Regions from separate parts of the Homo sapiens genome. Here region 2 is linked to region 1. A link means that fine-mapping ties the variant in region 1 to the expression of a gene that starts in the linked region. Tissue or cell type: left ventricle. Region 1 holds a variant in brackets; the other region holds the start of a gene. All regions are shown on one strand. Distances are from middle to middle.

Region 1 (8,188 bases):
AAACAGTTTGCTGTTTGATCATATAGCCTCCAGCGGAATGCTGAGTTGGTCACATCCCAAGGGCCTTCGGCTCCCTGCAGCCAGCACTTTGGGAGGCCTAGGCGGGTGGATCACAAGGTCAGGAGTTCGAGACCAGCTTGGCCAATATGGTGAAACCCCGTCTCTACCGAAAAATACAAAATTAGCCAGGCGTAGTGGTGCACTCCTGTAGTCCCAGCTACTCAGGAGGCTGAGGAATGAAAATCGCTTGAACCAGGGAGGCAGAGGTTATGGTGAGATCGCACCACTGCACTCAGCCTGGGTGACATCGTGAGACTCTTGTCTCCAAAAAAAAAAAAAAAAAAAAAAAAAAAACCGAAAAACAAAAAAAAGTCGATGAGAGGGGGCCTGGGAATCCTAAAAGTCTCCAAGTGCCAGTCTTTCCTGATGTTATTGCAGTTTTTGGAAATGGCGTTAAGACCGGCAACTAACTTGAATGCTAATTGCTCTACAAAACTAAAAGAAAGGTTGTGGAATGGCATTCTAGTGACCAGTGTAGCTTGGCACCTGAAGAAGTACTTGGAAGAAACACTAACAACTGGTGTGAATTCCATTTTTTCATGCACTCATATATTGATTTGATACACTTTGATGGAATAAAATAAGCAACTCGTGTCAGTATTATGTTAGCATTGGAGGTAATTTACTCAGCACCTATTACCTAATAGTGTCATTGAAAGTTGAGGAAGCAATGATGAGCACAGTAGAAACTGTCCCTGCCCTAATAGTGATTAGTGTGTCTATGTGAATGCAGGTAACAAAATAGTAAATAATAAAGTGCAGCAGTGCTTTGATGGAAAAAAGCTGGGATGTCTACTAGAGTCCAAAGGGCACAGCCAAAGCTTCCCAGATATTTGGCATTTGAACTGAGGTCTAAAGAAAGAGGAAAAATTAGCTGGAAGGAGACAATAAATTGCAGTTAGAGGGCTCCTTATGTGCAAAGGTCCAAGGTGAAAGAGAAACTAGAGTGTTCCAGGTATCCAGAAAATATTAGTATGGTGGCATTGTGGAGAGAGAGGCAGGAGTTCAGAGAGATGAAACTTGACAGGCAAGCAGAAGTGGGATATGAACAGTTTTGGACTTTATCCACTGAAATGTGATAAGGAGAGGGGACCAAAATAGAATTTGCATTGTAGAAAAACGACTTTGACTTCAGTTTGAGGAATGGCTTGAATAGGTACAAGACAGGGAGAGAGAGAATGGCAGATGCAATGATGCCAGGACAGCAGAGTGGAAAAACTGGAAGCAAGGATACCAGTTAGGAAAATAGGAATCCGGAGGAATGGGGAGAAATGGATGGATTCAAGACACATTTGGAAAGTATAATCAATAGGTCTCTTGGGGAGTTGTGGTGAGGAGGTAAGGGTGAGGACAGGGTGGAAATGACTTCCAGGTCTCTGGCTTTGGTCCTTGGGTGAATAAATGGTAGTTTCTGAGATAGGAAATGTGGGAAGAGGGACAGGTTTGCAGGAGGAGGAGAAAAATTCGGATTTAGGTATGCTGGGTTTGTATGCCTTGGATACATCCATGAAGAGATGTTCATCAGATTGTTGGCTGCACAGGTGTGGAGTTCAGGAAAAGGGTCCACAGTTGGGGAGACATTAATGTGGAGATCCTTGCTGAAACAATGAGAGTGGGTGCAATTGTTACTGAAACACCAGGGATTCAGCCTAGGTTCTTTTGCTGGCTGCACATAAAGCCAATCACTGAGACAACAAGTTTTGCCAAGGCTTTAATTGGGAGCTGCAGCAAAGGAGGTAGGAGATCAGTCTCAAATCCATCTCCCTGACCCGTTGAAATTAGGGGTATGGATAGAAGGAAAGAAATATAACTAGGTGTTGGAAAATGGACTCTGGAGGGGTAAGGAAGCAATCATGATAAATGAGGGGCCTGGTGTCTCATTGTCTGGATGTGATGGTCTGATGAGTTTCAGTTCTTTTATACCTTTTGAGAGGCCTGGGGGTCCTTTTCCTGGGGAAGGAACTCAGATAAAACAAATATAAGTTTCAGCTTTAAGATCAGGAGGGTCAATTTCCATGTTTATTCGAAAGAATTGTATATGGGACTATTGTGTTGGTTTCAGTCCCCCTCTTTCTATTTATCAATTCCTGGATCATGGGGAATCTGATCCTCAATCTTTCTGGCAGCTTCATGCTGAGGAATGGCGTGGTGGGCAGTTCCATACTATGGGTGACCACGTGGCCATCCAGGAATCAAAAGTTAATCTAATACTATAGTTTTCTTCTGAGACACAATCTGTATCATTACTGTTCCCCGCTTCCACCAAAGACATATCACAGCTGGATGGGCCTACCTGCAAAATAAGCCTCAGTTACATATACTTGGCTTATTTACCCACACAAAGTGCAGCAAAAATTATTGTCCATATGGGCTCTCCTAATTGGCTTTGCTGGAACCTCTCACAAGGCCATTTCAGTCAAAGCCCTGGGAAAATAACTTGTTCCTCCAACTGTGTCCCCTTATAAAAGAAAACAGATTTTTATTAAATGTATGCAAGAAAACACATTGCCATGAACTAAGAATATTCACAAATAGTTTATAAATTCTGGAGAAATTAGGGAGAGAGAAAATGCCTCAAATTCTGTTTAAAAGGGTATACTCTACTTAATATACTGTATTCTTAAAGGTTATGAAGAGCTTAAAAGAAAAAATTCTCCAGATTCCAAAAAACAAAAATTCTCCAGACTTTTTCAAACAAAACCATAAAAAATTATTTCAGTCCCACATTAGTTCAGTCCATGCAATCAACTCCTGCTGTGTTTCATATTGGGTTAGTAATCTTTATAAACATGTCAGCCTTTTAATTAAGAGGGACTCTAATTAAGAGTCCTAGAAGTTTTCTGTATTCCAGTGGCACAGTCTCCAAAGTTATCAGAAATCTGCATTCAAGACTCCTTTTCATGAAGTCCCCTAAATAAACAAGCTCTGGACTATATCTGATTATAAGTCACTTTTTGAAAAGAATCAATGCAAAACAACAATTGCAATGACAAAAGTCTTAGGAGAGCCATAAAGACACAGTTGACAAGGAAATTTTTTTTTCTGTTGGCATACAACAATTTAACATAATAATCATCATTACTGACACCATATATTAAGACATATCAGAATTTTAGGAATCTCATATAGTCCTGCAACACATATTAATAGCACATCTATACAAATATAACCCAAAGGAAGTTAAATACCACCTCACATTTGATAATGCTGCCTGTATAATTCTAATATACCAAAGAAGCCTAACATGTCTGTCTGTATTGGAATTCAAGGAAGCTAATACACAAAAAAGTTAGTTTGAGGTTAAAAAAAACCCCCTGAATTTAGAACTTGAAATATTTGCTGTTGGGAAGTCTGTCAGTATCAAAGATTTAAGACACTTGATATCACAAAATAGGATCACAGGTCGCTACAAAATAGTTATTCATTTAGCCAAAAAGATAAAACAAACACATTTACCCTTTGATAGGCGACTCAGTTTCCCAACAATAAGGCCTAATAAAGACAGCATGAGGCCAACTAAATGTCTCTCCCTCTTCCTTTTCTTCCCCCCACAGTTCACTCAAAAGGTAAACAAATATTTTATGTCAATATTATACAAA[C/T]ATTTTATTCAAAAGAGAACATCAAATTTTACCTTTGTATGGTATATTTTTAATGTTAAAGCTAATTTTAATAAAACCTTATAAGCCGAATTTTAATCAGTTTGACTATAAGATAGGATTTCTGTGAAGTTTTTTTTTTTTTTTTTTTTTTTGAGATGGTGTCTGGCTCTGTTGCCCAGGCTACAGTGGTGCGATCTTGGCTCACTGCAACCTCTGCCTCCTGGGTTCAAGCAATTCTCCTGCCTCAACCTCCCTAGTAGCTGGGATTACAGGCCATGCCACCACACTTGGCTAATTTTTGTATTTTTAGTAGAGACGGGGTTTCACCATGTTGGCCAGGCTGGTCTCCAACTCGTGGCCTCAGCTGATCCGCCTGCCTCGGCCTCCCAAAGTGCTGGGATTACAGGCGTGAGCCACCACACCCGGCCTGAGTCACCAGCCCCGGCCTGAGCCACCACGCCCAGCCTGAGCCACCACACCCAGCCATCTTTTTATAACGTTTTACGATTTCCTATTAAAGAGTAGAGTAATGCTCCAAGAAAACCCTGTTATGACACAGGGGCCCAGACATTGGCCTTGCATCAGTGTGCTTTTGATGTTAATGTTTAATTTATAGAAAAACCCTGAACTAATTTTATAACTCAAAATCAGCCCTTACAAGCTCACGTGCTCACCTTTTGTGCAATAGTTCCTGGGCGTAGAGGGATTGAATGGTTTTAATTTCTAGCCCTATGTCTCATGAAAGCAGTTCATTTTGATTGTCACCTTCTCCTGAGTCTGAAGACGAGGCTTCATTTGGTGTCAGTGCTCAAGATTTAGCAGGTATTGGTGTCTTTTTTGGATCCAGGAGTCAAAGGCCTTTGAATTACTAAATAATTGTTTCCTAAGAATTATTTAATAGCATATTTATACTGCAGGAAACCTCATCATTCTCTCTAATATGTCACAAAATAAAACCCTGGGATTTGGTGCCTAGTAGTTACTGTCTGAAACACTTCAACCCATTATACAATCCATTGTATTAAAGTGGTTAGGTTACTCCTTGCATTTATCTGCTAGCATTCTAGTGACAAAACTGTGACCTAGAGCCTCAAAAATGTGGTAAGTCCTGTGCCAAACTTACCAAAGTAAGATAGTTAACTTTTCTTTCCATCATTAAAAAAAAAAATGGTAAATGCAAGTATCAGTTTTGGAAATTCAATATGAAGATAAATCTTTCATTTAAAAAGTATACAACAAAACAAGGACAAAGTGACAATAAGCACACAGTAATTTCTTTTCAGCTATTTTGAAAGAGCCTCATCATACATTTCCAAGATTGGTTTCTAGATAAAGTACTGACAACTGATTTAAGTGACTTACACCACTAGAATCTTCAAACTGGCATAACACTTGTATGTACATATTTTGTTTTCAAGTATACATGTGAAGGCCCATCAGTGATAAATGGCTTAGGATAAAAAAAACACTAGAAAGTCTTATAATTTTTTTTATGACTTAATCCAAGTAAATGTTATTTAATCTTAATAATAGTAAACACAACTAAATTAGTTTGAGAGAAAGCCCAATCAATATAATTTCCTTAAAGACAAAGCCAATTTTTTTCTGAATATTAAGACTTTGTACCCATATAGCAGTTTTGCCTCATTAAAGGAAAAGATCTGAAACCGCTATTGTTTATTGAATTGAATTACCTTGGAAATAAACACCACTTAAACATTTCTCTCACCTACTTTTCCAAATAACCAATAATAATGTACTATTTCTGTTCAGAACTTAGAAGAATAAACCTTTTATTATTTTTTGCCAGGAATCTTAAAGTTCTTATAGCTCTCTAGTTCATTAGAGGTAAGCAAAACCAAACAAATTTTAAAGGCTGGTGTCCACCAACAATTTTTGGAAGCTTGAAAAAGGTAGCTTAGGAACTTTGGATAAGTAGAGCAAATGATGAGATACTGGAAATGCATAGGAAACAAAATGATTATTCATGGAACCAAATAAAAGCCTTCCTTACATTAGAAACTAAAAGCCATCAATGGTTTTATTAATATGTATATATAAGTAAAACCTAAAGAAGAAGAAACAGCAAATAAATGCAAATTAAAAGAAAAAACAAACAGGAAACCAACCTGAAAATTTTCTACTCAGTTTAACTTGGAGGCTATAGTGTTACCCAGAGCCAAAAAAACACATGATGAATATTTTGTTCCTGATGCACAATTTAATGTCTTTAAGTTCACCAATACCACTATATATTTTGTGCAATTAAGAAATTCACTTTAGGCTGGGCGTGGTGGCTCAGGCCTGTAATCTCAGCACTTTGGGAGGCCAAGATGGGTGAATCACTTGAGGCCAGGAGTTTGAGACCAGCCTGGCCAACATGGTAAAACCCCATCTCTACTAAAAATACAAAAATTGGCCAGGCATGATGGCACACAACTATAATCCCAGCTACTCTGGAGGAGGCCGACCAGTAAGTATTATACTGTAATGATAGTATATCTATGCAGAAGAGCAAATACAGTGTGAAGCAATGCAAGCATGTAGGTGAAATTTGGTTGTTGCTATATCTGGCTTTTATCTGGCTTCATGGTTAACTATATTAAGAAAGGATTGCCAAACTGCCAATGTGTTTCTTTACAATATTTCTTATTTTACTTTCATCAAGACTAAGAGCTTTAACTATGAGCAGTGTTAATTAGCCAGATTTCTCCAATATTCTATCTGGTTTTAAGAGAATATTATTTAAGCCTTTTATACTTTGTATTTTCTCTGTCTGTACATAAAGGTAGACACACAAAGAAATAGGAAAGAAACTACATGACTTACACACACCATCTATGATATGCTTAGACTTTCTGATTTGTCCTGGATTTTCGTTCTTTTTCTTCTTCTTTTTTTTTTTTTAAACAGTCATTTTACTTTAGGACAAAAAAAATACCATTATAAGATGCTTTGTCATACAAAATTATTTTCTTTATAACCTTCCTTACCAAAAATACATCTTTATACTCATAACTTTCTCCACATCTCTCTCGTCTACTTGTTCTTTTCTACCTTGTTTCATAAGTAACCTTTCAAGTCCATAATTATTAATAAACTTTAGATAACTTCTGAGTTAGATAAAATTTTTTTCTGAATAAAAACACATTGTCTTTTGCACATTTTATATATAGAATTACATATGAACTAGAATTCTTATCCTTAGTAACAACCTTAAATTTCAGTAAAAACCTAGGAAGCAAGAAATCTTGAGCTGCCTAGCAGATATTAGTATTTTATAGATGAGAACCATTCCACAATTTTTAGAAACATGTTCCCCACATCATAACCTTTTCTTAATTGGAAATGACTCAAACATCCAATGATTATATTTCCGATTATGCCAAAAGTTCATTTACAGCATTTGACCATTTACATTTTATTTATTTTTAGCAGTTTATCTAGATTATTTCTGCATCATTTCCTTCTTAACCATTTTATAACCTGTGAATGTCAGGTGTTCACCTAAATAACCTTAAAATTAATACGTGGGCATTTTGATCAATAACTCAGAAGATTCAGCTGTTTTCATTAAACTAACAGCATTAAATTAGTCTTATAAAGAATTCACACAAATATTCACTGGGTTTATAGCTTTATAACCTGCTGCCAAACTCTGATACCTCAAATTATCTAGCTGAGACAAATATAAAGCCGAGACAAAAATGTATGCTGACAATTCTGAAGACATTTCTATTTTTATTTTACCAATAATTTTAAAGACAGCTTGTTTATTAAAGATTTACTGAAGTCATGTGAACTTGAAAAACACTTTGGACTTAATTTATGAGCACTCTTATTTATAAGCCAATTTGGTAGGTATAGTGTATAACATAGTTAATGTACATCTAGATAAACACATCTAAACATGTATACACACACAAAGATCCAACAGCTTTTACCTTGGAACTCTAGCCATGAGATAGCAATACAAACTCACGAATCTACAACCAAGTCCACATGGCTAAAATTTGTTTGCTCCAATCGGTAATCCAATGAAGGCTGTGAACCAGAATTTTGGGTAAAGCAGTTTCCATGGCAGTTTGATTTTTAGAAGCTAGATTCCAAAGAAACCTGGGGCCAAACAGCACTACAGAAGAACGTCATGTGGAAACTACTCACCAGGCCCAACCCTGCTTAAAACAGCGGCATAAAAGCCAGAATACATGGGACTCCACCTGGCTTTCCCATTCAACAGCCAACTCCAGATTCCAAAGAATATTGGGGCAAACGTAGTACAAAAGAATATTTGTTTGTTGAATTCTAATTTCCCATTACTATATTGACACATACAATCAACAAAACACAATCCGACTGCTGAAGCAATAGACAAGCCCGAACAGTGTCCAAACTGAAACAGTCGAGGTGCTTTTCTCTCTCAATCGGGCTTTATTAACCTGCAAACAGAAATTTCTTAGGAATTTTCCAAATTGAGAGAAGCCGATCCCACTGTCTGGTACCCAAAAAAGACACTAACTTGGCCAGAC
Region 2 (8,188 bases), 140 kb after region 1:
TGCCCGCTACGTCCATCTTGGAGACTCAAGTTTCTGGTATTCACGCATAAAGTCCTGAAGAATCTCCTTTTCCATAAAACTCTCTCTTTGAAACATGGTTCTTGTTCTGATAGTCTAGGTCAGGAGTCTGCAAACTATGGCTGGCCCTTGTTTTTGTAAATCAAGTTTGACTGGAACACAGCCATGCTTGTTTGTTTGCATGTTGTCTATTGCCGCTTTCGTGCTTCAACACCAGAGCTGAGTAGCTGCAATAGAAACTGTATAACCATAACCCAAAAAGCCTAAAATATTTCACTACCTGTCCCTTTACACAAAAAGTTTGCTGATCTATATTTTAGAATATGATGAAAACAGATTTTTTTCCTTATCAAAAATTTTAGAGGACTTGAATCATACACCCTATATCTAGGATCTTTGTCTAGGCTAAAGAGTCTGTTTTCTACTAAAAAAACAAACCAAAAGCACCTTGGCTCAGACAATAGCAGTGTCAGCTGGCAAAGGTTTAACAACTTGAACTCCAAGAGGAAAAAAAAGCTCTGATGTAGCATTTGCCAATTTCCATGGTGTTATTATTCCCACCATGGCTTATTTCAATCTAAAAAATGTGTTGCCACTGAACACGGAGTTAGGAAGAGATATGCACAAATGCTAGTATAAACCAGCTCTGAAACCACTGGCTCCTTGGGACACTTACTATCAATGGCCTAACTCCTCATTTTAAAGTCAAAGACACTGAGACCCAGAGAAAGTGTCTTAACCCGAGGCTGGCCCAGTGACTGGCACCAGGTTGGAGGTAATTTCCCTGTGAATCTGGCTGCCTCACAGGAAATTACTTCCTATGTAGAAGGAAGAGTGGGGGAAAGAAGGCAAAGGAAGTTCTTTGCCAGGCACGTGGTGATACACGTTGGTTTTTATCATCATCTTCACAGTGTGGGACTGGTTTCTTCAGCACATGCCTTTGAAGCACACTTTAGGTAGGGGGTACTGCTCTTCACACAGGACCAGCTTTCATGTACACACTCTGACTATATAATAGACTATCTCAATTAACCAGCAGTTATCAAAGCTATCAGACCATAATTGCCAGAAAGACAGGGACTGCATCTTTTGTGCTCACTACTTTCCTGGCATCCCGCACATAACTGGACACATGAGAAATAGGTGGCCAATAAAAATCTACTGAAAGAATGAAGGAATGAGACCCCACCATCAAAGTGGAATTTTTTAATACAAAGAACACAGCAGGTGCTCAGAGTTTAGATCCCATTTCCTTCTCCTGTGGACTTCTCCTCCTCCTCACCTGTGGACTGTGCAACACACACAACACGCTCATGTGCATGCAACATTTCTCAAGTATCGGCTGTAGCATTTAAACTGATCCATCAGAGCACAAGAGGCTCTATGGATGAAGGAACAAAAGGGAGGATGGAGTTAGAAAATTTCTTCCTCCCAAATATATACACATAACATCTGTCTTGAACTTGTTCTGACAAGGCACGAAGCTAAGGAAAGAGTCCCGTGAAGGACCTCACCTACCACACTCCAGGATGGTGGAAACTGCTTTTTGACAGGGGCTGAGGAAGCACCACTCAGAGTGACACCCTCTGAAAGTGGAAAGTGAAAGAACGTCAAGACTGGAAATCATTATTCCAATAAACTCAAGGCTAATAACCATGCAACTGCAAACAGAAATGAACACGTGCAAGGGAAGGCAAAAGCATGCCTCCTTGTTCTTTTGGAAATAACTTCCTGACTACTTGGTAACTCTCACAGGAACCCCTACACACTTGGCATGGTCTCCCCACTGGCACTTTTGTGAGCCTACAGGTCCTGTTTGCCACATCACTGTTGTAATCCTGATGCACAGACAGGTCAGCTCTGCAAGCACAGAGACAACCAAAGGCATGTGCGAAGCCTTGCTGACTTTTCAGGAGGCTGGCAAGGTTCATCACAGCCTCACGTGGGGACCTAGTACATGGTTTCCAAAGTGAGATCAAACTTGGTTCCAGATACCAGAGGTTAATACTGTCCATGGCATGAGGTGGTGTGTGTTCCCAATCAGAGGAAGGATCACAAACAAGAAGCAGGCCCAATGAATGAAGCCTCTGAAGCATTTCCTACACCAGCATCCTCAAAGTGTGGTGCAGAGAACTCCTAGGGATCTCCAAAGTCAAAACCATTTTCCTAGTAATAAAATGTTACTTGCTTTTTTTCATTCACACATTTTCAGGAGTATACAGTGGAGGTCTCAAGAGGCTACATGATATGTGATATTGCAACAGACTGCAGAAGCAGCTATCAGAATCCAGCTGTCTTCAATTACGCTTGACATCAAAGAGATTTGCAAAAATGTAAAACAATGCCACTCTTCTCAATCATTTTCTGTTTTGGGAAATATAGTTCTTTTTCATAAAAATAGGCAATGTTAAGATATAATTAGTTCACTATTCTTTTTAAATGAATTATTATAGTACAAATTTCTCAGTCTTACTTACATATTATAAATATGGATAGATATAACACACATAAAAGCTCCTTAAGATACTAATTTTTAAGAGTGTAAAGGAGTACTGAGTACCAGAAAAGTTTGGGGACTTCTGTCCTAGAGGTTGTCCCCCAGGGAAGAGAGTTACATGTGTTGCAAGAAGGAAGATGCCATTATGATGTGCTAGCTGAATCTAGAAAAAAATGACTTGGTCATAACTGCAGCCCAAGCTCCTTTCTAGATCTCTGAATCTATCATGGTGGGCTCTGTGTTCAAGCCTCCCACGAAGGGTCTCTTCCCCCTCATCCCATTTTCCCTTTACCCCTTGGAGTGGATTCCCGGATCTGCCCGCACAACTTTAGCAAGGGTTTCCCTATCCAGCCAGCCGGGCCTGGGCGAGGACTCCCAGTGCGGGCCTCACACCCTCGGGGTTAGGACTCCCAGGACTGGCCGCACACCCTAGGCAAGGACTTTCAGGACAGCACGCACAGCCAAGGCTAAGAAGGGTCTAGGAAAGCCACTTCCAATCCCTGGTTTCTCTCCCCGGCATGACATAGACTGGGGACAGGGTGGAGACGTCAGTCGCCAGAAACACGTCCCCGATTCTCCTCTCAGCCTCCCCAAGCTCGCCTCCGTGTCCCCCGTGCCGCCACTGCCTCGGGCACCTCGGTAAAGGCCCGCACCGACTCTCGAGGGATACAGGGTGGACGGCGCTCCCGCCTGGGGACGTGGGTCGGGCCGCGTCGGTACTCACCTCCGACTGCACGGCGGGGCTCCCGCGACCGGCGAACCTGACCCAAGCAGCGGGACGCGTTCCCGTGCGCTGCGCGGTTCCAGCTGCCGCCTCCACGCTCCGCCCCCTCTCGCCCCCGGGGCCGCCGCGCGATGGGCGGAGCAGGGGCGGGAAGGGCGGAGCAGGGGCGGGACGGACGGGCAGCTAGCCGAAGAAGGGGCGGAGCCTGCGGGCGCCCCCGCGGGCCTGGAGGACTTCGCCCCGGGCTGGAGGCTAGGGTTGCGAAGGGCTCCTCCGCTGGAAGTGGGAGGGCTGATCCCTCGGCCCGGGTCCGCTTCTGCCAGCATGGGACCTGGGACGAGGGTGTCTGTTGCTCACTTTGGAGCTTAGCATGTGACTCCCCAGCCGGCGTTAGGAAGTGACCAAAGGGTGGGGAAGAAATGGAATTATTTTTAAAAAATGATTTGGCCATAACTGGAGAGGCTTCATGTACGTGTGGTCACTTGGCCCGCCTCCCTTCTCACTTTGTCCGTCCCCACCCTACCCACCCTCTCCACCCTCGCCTTAATTCTTTGCGCAAAGCCTGCCAAGTGGACATCGGAGTCACGCTGTCAGAATAGGACTTCAGCATTTCCGTGGCAAAAGTTCTATATGTAGATTTCCTTGGACATGTAACAACACTTTCTAATGCACGATGTTCACCGGTCTGAAGTCGGAGAAATGGCTGGGAGATGGCAGCAAGTGGGCTTTCACAAGATCTGCTTTTCATGTTGGTAGGAGTTGTGCCCTCTTGGGTGAATGGCGTTCAAAGAAGTGATTAGATCTTTCTAGATGAAAGGTGGTGAGGTTTTCCTGCCCAAATTATTTGGAAAGTTACTGTAGTTTTCTGAATAAGCAGCTTATAGGATGAGTAAACAATAGCCAGTACTAATAGCCCCCCTGCTACTTTATACTGCCCTCCTATTCTGCACAAAGCCCTGTGATCGACTCTTTCCACGTTATTCAGTTCAGCTCTTCCAACCACCTTACAAGTAAAGAATATTACCCGTCTTTGCAGGTGTGCAATGCGCAACAGCTGAGACTCAGTCCTTAGGTTGGTTTGACACCAAAGCCTACACCTTCCCTGTCATACTGCACTATAGGGTACAACTATCGTCTAGTTATATTTAACTTTGAAATATAAATACTTATATTTATTTTGAAAGGGGAAGTAACTGTATTTCCAATATGAGAGGAGACTGTTTTCCCACCCACTTCCTAAATCCTTTCCATTCACATTAGTAATTAAATTTTCTTTGAATGTCCACCATATGGCAGAGGTGCACCACAATCCCTGAAAAATCATGCTCCAGTCCCCTTGGGAGGTAGGGAGAGTAGGGGCAAGGTGAGAGTGAGTAGAAGGCTGGGGAAGTCCGATGAGGACACATCCAGCTAAATTGCGATTCTTAATGAGGCAGCCATTCGGAAAGCAAAGTATCTAATGTTCAATGATAACATCCGTGTAACTGAGAATCCTTCGCAGAAAACAATCAAATCAGAGCTATGAAGGGAATTGAGATTTATTAGTAAGCACGCTGGTCAAAACCGTGAAGGAAATAGTTCCACATCCCCCCAGTCTGTTGCTCTTGGACGTTGTCACCAGTGACGTGCAGATCGTGAATCCCAGGGCCTGTCCTCTGTTCCTGTCCTTACTCACTACTCTGTGGTATTTGACACTGGCGATTCGTTTTCCTAGAAATGTTAACCTCCTTTTGGCTTTTCAGCCCTCCGCTCTTAGGAGTCACCTCTTCCCTCTTTTGTCCCTCTTTTTTAAGGTCTTTCCCTACACTCTCTCCTCTTGCTTTATATGTTTCTCCATTTGCTGAGTTTTTCTTCATCTATTTTCTCAGTATGCAGACTGCCTGCCACTTCTAGCTGAAGCCTGCTATGTCTCTGTCATTGGTCTTAGTTAACTTTCTGACCTTCACACTCTTGATTTGCAGCCATATGTGGCAACCCCACCTGGATATTCCAAAGGTGTCTGTATTAGACCGTTCTCACGCTGCTGTAAAGAACCCTGAGACTGGGTAATTCATAGGGAAGGAGGTTTAATTGGCTCACAGTTCTGCATGCTGGGGAGGCTTCAGGAAGCTTACAATTATGGCAGAAGGGGAAGCAGGTATGTCTTACCTGGCAGCAGGCAAGAGAGTGTCCTCTGAATGCACAGTGGTCCTCCTGAATGCTTTGAGGGGACCTTAGAATCCCTAAATTTTTCACTGAATATATGTCTTCATACCAGAGAAAATTTGAAATAAACGTTTTGTTCCTCTTTAAGAAAAAAAGAGTTAAATTCATAACAAGGAGAGGCAGGTCTTAGCCTCATCTTGGCTCCCGGTAAATATCCAACGGCTCTCCCCTGATGCCCTCTTCCCACCACACCTGCTATACGTTTAATTTTCGTGCTCTCTTAATTACTGCCTAAGGGCCTGATCCCTGAGCTGCCTTCCCAGGGAACAAGAATCCTCTGGGCAGCTGCTTACAGTTTCTCTCAGTATAGCTAATAATAAAAATCATCCCCATGATCCAATCACCTCCTTCCCTCCACAGGTGGGGATTACAAACCATATCAGTGCCTGTCATTCATCACATCTAAAATGGGAATTTAGTGTCTTCTCTAACCATCTGTCTCTCCCCTCCTATCCATTTAGTTTCTTTTTCATCCTAATCCTGCATCCCGAATTTGTATTTCATGATCTGCTGAGAAAGCTAAATGTTTAAGGGGTATATTGCCATGGCATATTACTACGCTCTCACAGGGTCCACCTAACAAATATTTCTGTCACGATATAAAAGGTTCTGCTAATGGCCCAGCTGAGGGCATATACTCTAGGGACCTTCAGAGAGGATGCCACCCAAGCATGTAACTGCTCAGGCACCCCAGCTGTGCTCTGGTGGGGGGCAGAGGCAGAAGGACCTTCATTTGAAGTAACAGTATTGTTTTAGCAGCCTTACCTGCTAGAAGGCTCTGCTGCTATAAGAAGAACCATGAAGATTCTGCCAGAGACCTGTTGAGCTCTGAGGAATGCCTCATCATATTCCACACCGATTTCAGTTACTTGTATATGCTGGACTTCCTCAGTTTATTGAAAGGTCCTAGGAACTATACCCAACTAACTTTGTATCATGCTTTACAATTTATACTGCATTTTCACATACATGTCATTTAATAGGAAGGGAGAGGTGTAAGAGAAAAAGTCAAGCATAACGCTTCTCAAACCTTGGGGTACATTGAAAACATGCGTGCCTGTGTTGTGCTCTTAGGAGGCTGAGTTTGATGTGGGTGGTCAAAAGACCATGCTTTGAGAAACACCAATGGTAGTTCTCCGAATCTGGGTGTTTCTCAGATTTACCATAGGGCACTGATAAAAATATAGCCTCCTGTATCCTCTGCCTCCTAGAATGTCTGATTCATTAGGTCAGGGTGGGGGTCTGTGTTCAGATTCTGAATACGCTACATTTTTACCACAGGTGATTCTGCTGTAGCATGTCCCCAGATTGGCACCAAAGACCTGTTACCTAGAAATATACACTCCATGAGGGCAGGGGCCCATGTCAGTTTGTTCATCATCCCTAACATGGAGTCTGGTGCATAGTAGGTGCTCAATACAAGTTTGTTGACTGACTTACTGTCAGTGTCTTTCTATTGCTTACCCTTTGCTCTCTGTTGGCCTTTGCGCTGTTCAGAGTCCTCTAGAGTGGCACGGAGGGAAGACATCTGTTTGGCAATGAATGAAGTATAAAATGGTCCTCCTGAATGCTTTGAGGGGACTTTAGAATCCCTAAATTTTTCACTGAATATATGTCTTCATACTAGAGAAAATTTGAAATAAATGTTTTGTTCCTCTTAAAATCAAAGTTATATTCATAACAAGGAGAGGCAGGTCTTAGCCTCATCTTGGTTCCCGGTAAATAGCCAACTGCTCTCCCCTGATGCCCTCTTCTCACCACACCTGCTATACGCTTAATTTGCATGCTCTCTTAATTACTGCCTAAGGGCCTGATCCCTGAACTGCCTTCCCAGGGAACAAGAATCCTCTGGGCAGCTGCTTACAGTTAAGCACCATTCCTCTCAATATAGCTAATAATAAAAATCTTCACAACCGCCTGTTGATGCTGGTAACATTGTTATTGCCATAGTTTCACAGATGAGGAAACTGAGATTCAGAGTAGTTACACAGAATGCTTCAGTCATGAAACTTAAAGGGTGATCCTGGGGTTTTAGAGAAGGCTGGCCTCACTCCATAGCTTGTGCTTTTAAGCATTATGCAACAAAATCATCAGATACCCTGAAGCTGTAAATTATTTGTTCTTTGCAGAAGAGGGACTTAAATGTTCTAGAGAAAAGATTTGTTCTATCACCATATAGGCTGGAATTCCTTATTCACGTATTTCCAGGGCTTGTTCTCCCTGATGATAGCACAGAGATCCCTGCTGCAGCCATGTAATGTAGGGACACCTGGGTAAAGAGAGTCCTCATTCTGGGGGATGGAGGTGTTGGAAATCAGGGGCAGCTTGAGTATGAATTCCAGGATTGGTACATAATTCCTAGGTGTCTAGTACCATCTTTCACATGTGTTAATTTGCTGGATACTTTTTGAGTACTTTGTGTTATATATTTTTCAGAAGGGAGAGGGAAGTACTCTGCAGGATTGGTCCTTTAAATTATTTAGGTATACACAAAATAAAACATTTTTTTCAAGAAAATAATTTGGTAATGTTGACAAATGAGAGTAAAAATAAAAATTTGTCACTAATTTGACTCATTTCTAATTCCAGTTTATGATGAGATTACTTCCACATGTCAGTTTAAGTGCTTTTTAAATTTTCTTCTTGAGACAGGATTTTTCTCTGTTGCCCAGGCTGGAGTGCAGTGGCAGGATCACGGCTCAATGCAGCCTCGACCTCCTGGGCTCAAGCAATCCTCCTACCTC

The links. PIP is the estimated chance that this variant, and not a neighbour inherited with it, causes the effect.
Region 2: ACO1 starts here. The variant in region 1 is fine-mapped to the expression of ACO1 in left ventricle (GTEx, PIP above 0.99).

The regions. Positions count from the first base shown.
Region 1 is chr9:32,516,763-32,524,950 of GRCh38, reverse strand. All of the region lies in intron 1 of RIGI (RNA sensor RIG-I), which reads left to right. Among named protein-coding and RNA genes, the nearest start is that of RIGI, 5.3 kb to the left of the region's middle. The variant C/T (reference allele first, on the strand shown) is at 3,660.
Region 2 is chr9:32,379,787-32,387,974 of GRCh38, reverse strand. ACO1 (aconitase 1) reads right to left here and starts at 3,332. Exons shown (of 21, transcript NM_002197.3): 1 at 3,240-3,332. RefSeq lists a silencer at 3,152-3,531.